Linked DNA regions of Homo sapiens. The protein of the gene in region 1 binds, or shares a complex with, the protein of each later gene. Each region holds a gene or a part of one and is shown on either strand. Other genes may lie near its edges. The genes, in order: CCNC, MED16 and MED25.

Region 1 (3,650 bases):
ACCTGTAATCTTAGCACTTTGGGAGGCAGAGGTGGGCAGATCACTTGAGGCCAGGAATTTGAGATGAGCCTGGCCAACATGGTGAAATTCCCTCTCTACTAAAAATACAAAAATTAGCTGGGCGTGGTGAGGCACAAGAATCACTTGAACCTGGGAGGTGGAGATTACAGTGAGCCAAGATCGTGCTACTGCATTCCAGCCTGGGCGACAGAACGAGACTCTGTCTCAAAACAACAAAAAAAGTGGTAGTATTAACAAGTTTCATAGGTGTCTAATATTTTCTTTTTATATTTATTATAAAGATACTATGAAAAGCATTAAAAATATTTAGAAGATAGAGGGGAAATATTTATTCAACTTCCTTAATGGATGAATAATTTTTTCCTGTGGGGCAATTTCTGTTTTGTTGTTGTTTTGTTGTTGTTTATGCATACCTATATATTTCTTAACACATTTGCAAATCCTAGAATTAGACCACTGTGACTCACATAGAGCATGTGTAGGTTTTTTCCTTTGTTAAAAATGAACATAATTATGATTTAACCACATGGAAGTTACTGTTCAATGTTAATATTATAATGATACCAGAAGATACATTTAAAATTTCATTATTTGCCTTTTAGTTATCCAAGCATTAGGTGAACATCTTAAATTAAGACAACAAGTTATTGCCACTGCTACGGTATATTTCAAGAGATTCTATGCCAGGTAGGATTGTTTTTATTTTATTTATTTGAACTCTTATCTAATGTTGATGAACCTTAGCACAGTGTAAATGAATCATGTGTCTACCATAGAGTTATCTTGATTTTTTTCCCAGTGTGTTTTCTGTATGAATGATATTTAACTTTGTTTTATCATATTTTAGGTATTCTCTGAAAAGTATAGATCCTGTATTAATGGCTCCTACATGTGTGTTTTTGGCATCCAAAGTAGAGGTATAAAACAATTTTCTGTTCTTCATCAAAGTGTAGTCAATGTATGTTGGTTAATCTGCCCCAGTTTTCACATGGCCTATGTAAAATTAATAAATGGTAATTTATGCAAAATACTAAAATTGTACAAAATCAAAGAAATATATACATATCCTTATATATTCACTTAACAGACACATACAGCACTTACTGTGTACCAACTGACTTAATCTTTGTAACAAACTGGAATACATAGTAGTAGTATTCCCATTTTATAAATGAGGAAACTGAGACAGAGATGAAGAACTTGCTTAAGATGATATAGCTAGTAAGTGTGAGAGCCCGTGTTTGAACCATGGGAGTCTCGTTACCAATCCTGTGTTCTTAACTACTTTCCTCTGCTGCCTTTGAGACATCTATTGTTTGGCACTGAGTAGTATTCAGTAAGTACCACAGCTTGCCTACCATAACCTGAGAATGTCCCTTATGCTTCTCACCCATATGCTTATCTTCTCCTGTCTTCCCTCCCATCATCCTGATGATTGGCTGCCTACCAAGCCAGAAGGAAGGCAAGGATTAGGGGAAGCTATAGCTATATAGAGTCTAACAAGTAAAAGTTGAGGTTGTGAGCGTAGAGAAATTAGGTAAGGGAGAGAAGATAGATAGGAACTTGCGGCAGAGACTGAATTTCTGTTCAACTGTTTTACCTTTGTAGTATTTTTGAAAGAGCTCAGCTAAAGTCCAGAAAATAATAGCAGATATTGGCTGTTTTTCATAAATAATGTAGTCTTTGGTGGTGTGAAATCTTTGCATTATGTTTCTATTTTTGGATAATGTCTTAGAGTTCTATTCTTAGAGTTGTATTCTTGAATATTGAATGTGATTTTTACCTAGTAAGTTTACATTCCTTTTGGCACCCACTTTGATTTAGTTTTGTTTTAGCCATGATTTAAGGTTATCCATGACATCTTTCCCAACTGTTACCTAAATAATGACAATTGACTCTGTTAGAAATAATATTAAGACAAGCTTTCTAGAAGTTTATGTTTTCTAATTGTGAGTGGTAGTTTAAGAAGGCAGAATCAGTTAAGGTCCTTATTATGGATTGAGTTTTCTAATTCTAATAATTCTATGTAATATTTGATTTTATTTAAATATTACCATGTAATAATTTAAAGTCTCTTAAGCACAGGCAGTATGGAGGACCAAGACAAAAAATCTTTATAAACATTTAATCTTGTAGATTAATTTGAGGATTTTAATCTATCTTACTTGTTAAATATTGTTATGTGATTTACTGAGTAGAACTCTGTGATGTGATTTACTGAATGAAAGTTTTCCCTTTGAGTTTTGGATAAAGAATTATTCCTAGGCCGGGTGTAGTGGCTCACACCTGTAATCCCAGCACTTTGGGAGGCTCAGGCGGGTGGATCACCTGAGGTCAGGAGTTTGAGACCAGCCTAACCAACATGGCAAAACCCCGTCTCTACTAAAAATACAAAAATTAGCCGGATGTGGTGGCAGATGCCTGTAATCCCAGCTACTAGGGAGGCCGAAGCATGAGAATTGCTTGAACCCATGAGGTGGAGGTTGCAGTGAGCCAAGACTATGCCACTGTACTCCAGCCTGGGTGACAGAGCAAGATTGCATCTCAAAAAAAAAAAAAAAAAGAATTATTCCTGAGAAAGAGAATGTAGTCTTTCAGATTTGGTCGTAGCATTATTATTATTTTTTTTTTATCTCTGTGACCAAATCTTTCTGTATTTTCTCTAGTTTTATGGAAATTGTATGGAAAGCTCATTTAAGAACATGTCTCAGGCTTTTACTTTTTCTTTTCAGTTATTATAGTTGGAGGTTTAAATGTAAAACAAATATATTAGTACACATACATTTCCCCTACACAGGATAAGGATGTAGGCTGAAGGTATTTAAATAGATTTTTAGTTTAGCTCCTTTTGTTGGATAAGAAACCAACTCTTGATTTTTTTATTTTAAAATGAAGTGAAGGCTTTAGAAATCTTACGAGGCAATAAATGAAACAGTATATATAAGGTGGATCATAATAAATTTTAGTATTTTCACAATGGTGGTTGTTCAGTTGAAAGAGGAAATGGGAACTGACTTTGGAAGTCTTACGTAATTCCTGTCTCCCTGTTCTAAAAAGGATAGTAACTATTTATATGGTTTTTTTTTTTTTTTAGTTCTTTTGGTGATTAATTAAGGTTTATCTTATTCACAAATTCAACTGTTTTACCATAGAATGGCATGAAGTATCTGTTAATACAGGTTGAATTGAATAGGAAACATACTTAATATTCTTGCAATTAAGTATAGAATGTAAACAATCTTCTTGGAAACTAATTTAAATGGAAAAACTGACACTGTAACCTTAAGGCTTGGTTTCTAATTTGGTACCTTTTATTGTTATTAAATTATAAAATTATTTTAAAATATGTCTTAAGTTGTAGCAATTTGGGGGAGAGGTAATACAGGCAGAATATCCGTAATCTGAAAATCCTAAATGCTCCAAAATTTGAAACGTTTTGAGGGCCAACATGACATTCAAAGGAATGCTCATTGGAACATTTTGCATTTCAGATTTTTAGATTAGGGATGCTCAACCAGTGTAATGCAAAATATTCCTAAATCAGAAAAATCTCTGATCCTAAGCATGTCAGATAAGGGGTAATCAGCCTGTACATTTAGGAGTGTAAGTACTTCACACCTCAAGTAGTT
Region 2 (3,650 bases), on another chromosome or scaffold:
ATGTGCCTGCAATCCCAGAGTGTCCTCGAAGGACCTCAGATCTAACGAGCTCAGCCGGCAGCTGCACGTGGGACCAGCCCTCTGAGCTTCACTTGTTTTCCTCTGTGCCATCAGAAACCAATACGAAGATAAAATGGGAAAAAAAAAATCCCATTCACGGCACAGCCTGCCGAGAAACGCGTGAGACCCAGGCGGGGGCTGCGAGGCTAAACCCCAGCGTGGCTGGGATCCGTAGCCAGTGACAGCGCTAGTGATGGCGAGACCTCGCCCTCTCCCTCCTTGGGCCGTCGCTGTGTGCCAAGCGTTTCATTTTTGTTTTTAGTTGTTTCTATTTTTTGTAGAGATGGGGTGTCCTACGTTGCACAGGCTCTCCAACTCCCAGCCTCCAGGAATCCTCCAGCCTCAGCCTCCCAAAATGCTTCAGCTCATTCATTCATTCTCTCTAGACCAGGGTCTCCCCGTAGGCACCACAGACATCGGGGGCTGGAGCAGCCTCTGGGATGGGGGTGTCCTGTTGAGCAGCCTCCCCAGCCTCCACCCGTTACTTGGCAGGGGCACCCCCAGTGGTGACAACTAAAAATATCTCCAGACATCACCAGGGGCCCCCACCAGAGGCAGAGCCGCTCCCAGCTGAGAACCCAGCACCTGGTCCTGTGCGCCTGGTCTTCCGCACCTGTTTTGCCATGAGGTTGCTGAGGTGCAGAGGCGAAGCAGCTTGCCCAGCTGACCGAGCGCCTGGTGTCAGAGTCGAACTGCTCTTCTCCTCAGCTGGAGCCTTGGCGGGCGCCTCTGCTCCGGCCCCTTGGGGTGACCTGGCTTCCTGCCCTCAGGTCCTCTCCACCCGGATCCTGGCCATGAAGGCCTCGCTCTGCAAGCTGTCGCCCTGCACGGTGACCCGCGTGTGCGACTACCACACCAAGCTCTTCCTCATCGCCATCAGCTCCACCCTGAAGTCGCTGCTGCGCCCCCACTTTCTCAACACGCCTGACAAGAGCCCCGGCGACCGGCTGACCGAGATCTGCACCAAGATCACCGACGTCGGTGGGTCCTTTTCCACGCCCGGGGCCTCGAGGTTTCTTTCATCTATTTATTTTATTTTTATTTATTTTTTTTACTCTTTTGAGATAGGGTCTTACTCTGTTGCCCAGGCTGGAGTGCAGTGGTGCGATCTCAGCTCACTGCAGCCTCCGCCTCTCTGGTTCAAGTGATTCTCCTGCCTCAGCCTCCCAAGTAGCTGGGATTACAGGCACGTGCCACCACGCCCGGCTGATTTTTTGTATTTTTAGTAGAGACGGGGTTTCACCATGTTGGCCAGGCTGGTCTCGAACTCTTGACCTCAAATGATCCGCCCGCCTCGGCCTCCTAAAGTGCTGGGATATAGCCTAAAGGCTGGGATTACACCACACCCAGGCTTTTAGAGACGGTCTCACTGTGTCATCCAGGTTGCAGCACGGTGACGCAGTCCCAGCTCAGCGCAGCCTCTGCCTTCTGGGCTCAAGCAATCTCGCCTCAGCCTCTGGAGTAGCTGGGATTACAGACACGTGCCACCACACCCGGTTTTTAATTTTTTGTAGCAACAGGGTCTCACTGTGTTGCCCAGGCTGGTCTTGACCACCTGAGCTCAAGCGATCCTTTCACCTCTCTCTACTCCTGGGGGCTGAGACGCTCCCAGGCCGACACCCGGCACCCGGGTCCTGTGCAGGCAGGTCTGCTCCTCCTTCCGTTTTGCCGTAAGGGGACTGAGGCAGAAAGGCTAAGCAGCTTGCCCAGGCTCACCCAGCACGTGGTGTCCTACTCGCCTCTGCCTCCCAAAGCGCTGGGATTACAGGCGTGAGCCACTGTGCCTGGCAGGCTGTTTCTTTTAAAAATTAGGGTTGCTGGGCGTGGCGACTCGTGTGTAATCCCAGCACTTTGGGAGGCCAACGCGGGCTGATCACGAGGTCAGGAGATCGAGATCATCCTGGCTAACACGGTGAAACCCCGTCTCTACTAAAAATACAAAAATCAGCCGGGCGTGGTGGCGGGCGCCTGTAGTCCCAGCTACTCGGGAGGCTGAGGCAGGAGAATGGCGTGAACCCGGGAGGCGGAGCTTGCAGTGAGCTGAGATCACCCCACTGCACTCCAGCCTGGGCGACAGAGTGAGACTCTGTCTCAAAAAAAAAATTTAGGGTTATCGTTTGTCTGGAGTACCCGGTTGAGTGTGGACACGTGGCACTCCTGGTAGCTGGGAGCCGTGTGCACAGTCATGGTTAGTTCTGTGGGACCACCCTAGTCACCATCCGAGAGGCATCTGTTGGGTGTGTAACCGCCGCCAGCTGCCAGCCGGGGGTGGCTGCAGCTGCACGCTGTGGACATGCCCCTGTGTTCACAGAGTTCACCTCGGAGCAGGGGGCAGATGTGCACCAGCAGGCCGGGCCTGAGCACTGGTGGCCCTGGCATGGGGACCTGCCCACGCCAAGGCCTGCAGGCCGAGAGAAGCTGGTTGGTGCTGAGCACAGCGGCCCCCGGGGGGGGGCAGGCAGTGGGCTCCCAGTTCCTCTCCGTCCGGCAACGCCATCGCCCCCTTCTCGTTCCCGGTGTGGGTCCCCTTGTGTCCTGGTACTGGGTGGGCACTCAGTGCAGGTCGAAGGACCGAGGGGTGCAGTTAGGTCACCCTGTGTGTACAAGAGGCCCGAGCTGACCCGACCCACGTCTCCTTGTAGACATTGACAAGGTCATGATCAACCTCAAGACGGAGGAATTTGTGCTGGACATGAACACACTGCAGGCGCTGCAGCAGCTCTTGCAGTGGGTGGGCGACTTCGTGCTGTACCTGCTGGCCAGCCTACCCAACCAGGTGCGCCATGCTCTCCCCTAAGGCCCCGCCCCCCACCTGGGCCCCCATCTCATCAGGACCCCGCTTCCCTGCCCCTGCCCCTCAAAACCACCTCAGCCCCGCCCCTAGTTGGAGTCCCGCCCCTACTTGGAGTCCCGCCCCTACTTGGAGTCCCGCCCCTGCTTGGAGTCCCACCTCAGCCCCGCCCCTGGTTGGAGTCCCACCCCTACTTGGAGTCCCACTTCCTGAGTCTGTCTCTTCTTAAACCCCCACTTCCTAGCCCTGCCCCACTTCCTAGCCCTGCCCCACTTCCTAGCCCTGCCCCACCTCGGAGCCCTGCCCCATCTCGGAGCCCTGCCCCACCTCGGAGCCCTCCCCCACCTCGGAGCCCTCCCCCACCTCGGAGCCCTGCCCCACCTCGGAGCCCTGCCCCACCTCGGAGCCCTGCCCCACCTCGGAGCCCTCCCCCACCTCGGAGCCCTCCCCCACCTCGGAGCCCTGCCCCACCTCGGAGCCCTCCCCCACCTCGGAGCCCTCCTCTCCATGAAGCCTCTGCTGTAAGAAGCCTTTCCTTGGCCACACCCTTCCTGCCCATTCTCAAAGCCCCGCCTCCCAGGCCCTGCTCCTTCTCAGCCCCACCCCTACACGAAGGCCGGTTCGCCTTGCTTCTGCTGCTGCTGCCCCCACCCCTTACCCTCCCCAGCTCCCTGCGCCTGGGGTGGGCGGCCTTGAAATCAAGTCTCCATCCACACCTCCACCTTCAGTTCTGCGGCTTGTGCGCCCCTGACCAGGGCTCCAACCTCGCCCCCACCCCCCCGCCGGTACACTCTGTCCT
Region 3 (3,650 bases), on another chromosome or scaffold:
TGGATGCTGAAAAAGGAGAGAGACTGCAAGAAAATCTGAGTGGGACTTAGCTTGGAGGCACCACATATTGGGAGAAGGGTGGGCATCTTGGTCCTGGAGACCCCAGGGGGCCATGTGGGGCCCGGGCAGGAGGGGGTCGGAGTGCTGGTTTGGGGACTGTCAACACTCACTCCTCGCTGCTGCTGCTCCAGCTTCTGCTGCTGGACCTGCTTGTGGTTGGTGATGACCTGCCGGATGCCGTTGACGAAGCCGCTCTGGTCGTAGGGGATGAGGCCCATGAAGATCTTCTTCTTGGACGAGTACAGGAGCATGAGCACGCGCACCTCACAGGGCGCCGTGTGGGGGAAGTGCACGCAGCCCGCCTGGGTGGACAACAGCTCTTCAGAACCATTCAGGCCCTGAAAGAGGCAGCCCTGACCCCCTCCCCATTCCAGAAGGCTCTAGAGGCCCCACAGGCAAGGTGAGGTGAGGTTTCTGCTATAGAAGGTTAAGGAGAACAGGTGTGCTATGGGTTGCTCTGGAGACAGAAACTGAGGCGCTCAGGGCAAGCTAGGGTTCCAGCTGCCCACTGAGAGGGAAAGCGGAGAGAAAGTGCTGGAGCCCAGCTCTTCAACCTTCAGCCACCACCTGCTCCTCATGGACCCAGTTTCTTGGGCATAAAATGCCACGGCGGCCTCCTCAGAGGGCGGCTGAGGGTCACGGCCGGGAGAGCGGCCTAGATGCACAGCGTGGTACCCACAGGCCTGTGATCAACGGTGGGTCGGACCCCGGGTATCCAAGAGATCCTCCAGCCCTCAGCACCGGCCAGTGTACACCACGGGGAGTGCTCCCACATCACAGGGTCGCTGTGACTATGCGATGTCTGATCCACAGCAAGAGCCCTGCCTGAGGCTCAGCCCACAGGAAGCACCCAGGAAACATCACTGGTCATCAGGGGGGTAACACATGGAGCATTCAGGGCAGGGGCTCCTGAGGGAGGCGAGGCTGACCTTGGCCAAGTGAATTGACTTCTCTGAGCCTCGGTTTCCTGCCTGAGACAGACCCTGCTAGCTGCCTATTCCATATCCAAGTGTCCTCCTCCCCTGCATTCCCAATGCTGTCTGGGGCTGTAACATGTCCCAGCCCCAGACAGTCACGGATACCTGCTCCCAGCAGCCTCCCATCAACTAGGGGCTGCCCAGTGGCCTAGGTCCGGGATAGGAGGTGAAAGGAATGCCTGCTCTGGAATCTGAGAAAGTTTCTGCTGTCTTGAAGAAAGGGAAACACACAGCCCCCTTCCCCTCCTTCATGAAAGCACACAGGATGCGTGGAGCCATGAGAGCTACCTTGTGACTATAAAGGAGAGGCCAAGAGAACCACAGGGCCCTGTCCCTGATGTCACAGACCTATGAAACCAATCCCAATAGCTGGCCCCCTCTAGATGTCCTGTCCTGTGCAAAATATAAATGCCTGCTCCTACAACGCCTGCCCTCTCAGAACCCAGCTGCCACAGTGTGGCCACGTGGACAGGCCATGTGCAGACACTGGGATGGCCGGTCCTAGCCAAGCCCCAGCCAACAGCCAGGGCTGTGTGAGGAGCTGTTTTGAACATCCAGCCCAGTAAAGGTTTCAGATGACCAGAGTCTCAGCTGCCATCTGATGGCAACCCCGTGAGAGTCGCCAAGCGAGATGGCCCACTGAGCCCAGGTGACCCACAGAATCATAAGAGAACATTTTTTCCGAGTGCCCCCAATTATCTATGTGTTTGGGAAACTACGTGATTTGCAGCCGGAAGTACTAACTCTCAGGAATGCCTTCTTCACAAGGTTCTGTGAGGGTCTCGTGAGGTGATCCCCCTAAGGTTCTCTTTCCTGCAGGAGTGCCTGGTGCACGGAAGTAACTGATCTGCTCCTTCCCCGAGTTACAAAGTGTGAACTGTGACTCCCAGAAAGCTATGCTGAGGCTGGGCGCGGTGGCTCACACCGGTAATCCTAGCACTTTGGGAGGCCGAGGCAGGCAGATCACTTGAGGTCAGAAGTTCGAGACCAACCTGGCCAACATGGTGAAACCCTGTCTCTACTAAAAAATACAGAAATTAGCTGGGCATAGTGGCACATGCCTGTAATCCCAGCTACTTGGGAGGCTGAGGCAGGAGAATCGCTTGAACCCAGGAGACGGAAGTTGCTGTGAGCCAAGATTGCACCACTGCACTCCAGCCTGGCTGACAACAGTGAAACTCTGTCTCAAAAAACAAAACCAGAAAGCTAAGCTGAGGTTCCAGTCCCCAGCACCTGTGAAGGTGACTCTATCTGGAAAGAGGGTCTTTGCAATTGTAGTAAGATGAGGTCAGGAAAATGGGGCCTAATCCAAAATTACTGATGTCCTTATAAGCACAGACACAAAGATACAGAGAGAATGCCATGTGGAGACACACACAGAGGGAAGACAGCTGCGGGATGGAGGAAGACCCTGGAGCGATGCCACCTGAAGCCTGGGGTTACCGGCCGGAAGAGGCAACGAAGAGGCCTTCCCTCCAGCCTCTAGAGAGAGCGTGGCCCTGCTGACACCCTGACCTTGGGCTTCTGGCCTCCAGAACTGGGATAGAACACGTTTCTGTTGTTTTAAGCCCCTCTGCTTGTGGTAATGTGTTACCACAGCCACAGGAAATGAACACATCCCATAAAGCCATGCCAGAATCAACAGCTTCCTCCTAACTGATCCTGTCACATCCAGCTCACATTTTTAATGTGGAATATCCCTCAAATCTGGTGCATACGATGATTATAATAAAAGTCACGGCTCTAGAAGAAAGGCGAGGAACCTAAGGGCATGAAGTGCACCCAACCATCAAAAACGGCTTCCGTGGGCCCAGGCACTCTGGGATTCCCGTCAAAGGTCAGCAGAAAGCAGGACAAGAGTCAACACCCCTCGGCCCCCCATGCCCTGGACTCACGAAGCCGTTGCCCATGATGCGGTAGAGGCCTTTGAGAGACTCCAGGTCCTTGTTGGTGAAATGGAACTGGACCATCCTTGAGTTCCGGAACAAAGGGCCCAGGGTGGTCTGCGGGAGACACAGAAGTCGGCTGGCATGCTGGTGTGGGCAAGTGAGGCGGGGACATGAGGCAGGGAGTGGGGGTGGGGCAGGGAACAGGAAAGAGACAGCAGGGTGAGGACTGCCCGGCAGCAGGGCTGGCCCTCCACCGCCACTCACCAGCAGCTGCTGGGGGATGAGCTGCATGATCAGCTTCTGGGGCCACTGCTCCGTCTTCCTGGGGGCGATGCCAGGAGAGGTGTGAGGAGGGGGCCAGCCCCAGCCCCACCACACCCCGCCCCTGACTGTCACCTACAGGTTCTCGCCATGATTCACGTAGACCTGGCAGGGCAGTGACCGCGTCAGCTTGGTGTTGGCATCCACTGAGGCAGGTTTGGGTTTCTGAGGGGGAAAAAAGAGCATGTCAGTAAAAAGGGCCATAAGCCTCAGTCCCCTTGAGCCCTCATGTCCTACCCTGGTAGCCCCAAAGCTCAGGATGTTCCCCAGTTTAAGTCCCATGAGCCCCAGGCCCCTCCTCCAGACCAGCAAGCCTTCAGTTCCTCAAATGTTACAGCTACGTGCCCGGCCCCTAAATCCCACCATCCACTGTGCCCCAGATGATACATCGCCTGGGCTCTTC

What was found.
Region 2: CCNC (region 1) and MED16 share a complex: the UniProt entries of both Homo sapiens proteins name them as parts of the mediator complex.
Region 3: CCNC (region 1) and MED25 share a complex: the UniProt entries of both Homo sapiens proteins name them as parts of the mediator complex.

The regions. Positions count from the first base shown.
Region 1 is NC_000006.12:99,558,655-99,562,304, reverse strand, and holds part of CCNC (cyclin-C), read left to right. Parts: intron 1-623; coding exon 624-708; intron 709-868; coding exon 869-938; intron 939-3,650. UniProt on the Homo sapiens protein: Component of the Mediator complex, a coactivator involved in regulated gene transcription of nearly all RNA polymerase II-dependent genes.
Region 2 is NC_000019.10:872,635-876,284, reverse strand, and holds part of MED16 (mediator of RNA polymerase II transcription subunit 16), read left to right. Parts: intron 1-830; coding exon 831-1,041; intron 1,042-2,702; coding exon 2,703-2,836; intron 2,837-3,650. UniProt on the Homo sapiens protein: Component of the Mediator complex, a coactivator involved in the regulated transcription of nearly all RNA polymerase II-dependent genes.
Region 3 is NC_000019.10:49,831,698-49,835,347, reverse strand, and holds part of MED25 (mediator of RNA polymerase II transcription subunit 25), read right to left. Parts: intron 3,413-3,650; coding exon 3,327-3,412; exon of another isoform or gene 3,249-3,326; coding exon 3,191-3,248; intron 3,041-3,190; coding exon 2,933-3,040; intron 363-2,932; coding exon 171-362; intron 1-170. UniProt on the Homo sapiens protein: Component of the Mediator complex, a coactivator involved in the regulated transcription of nearly all RNA polymerase II-dependent genes.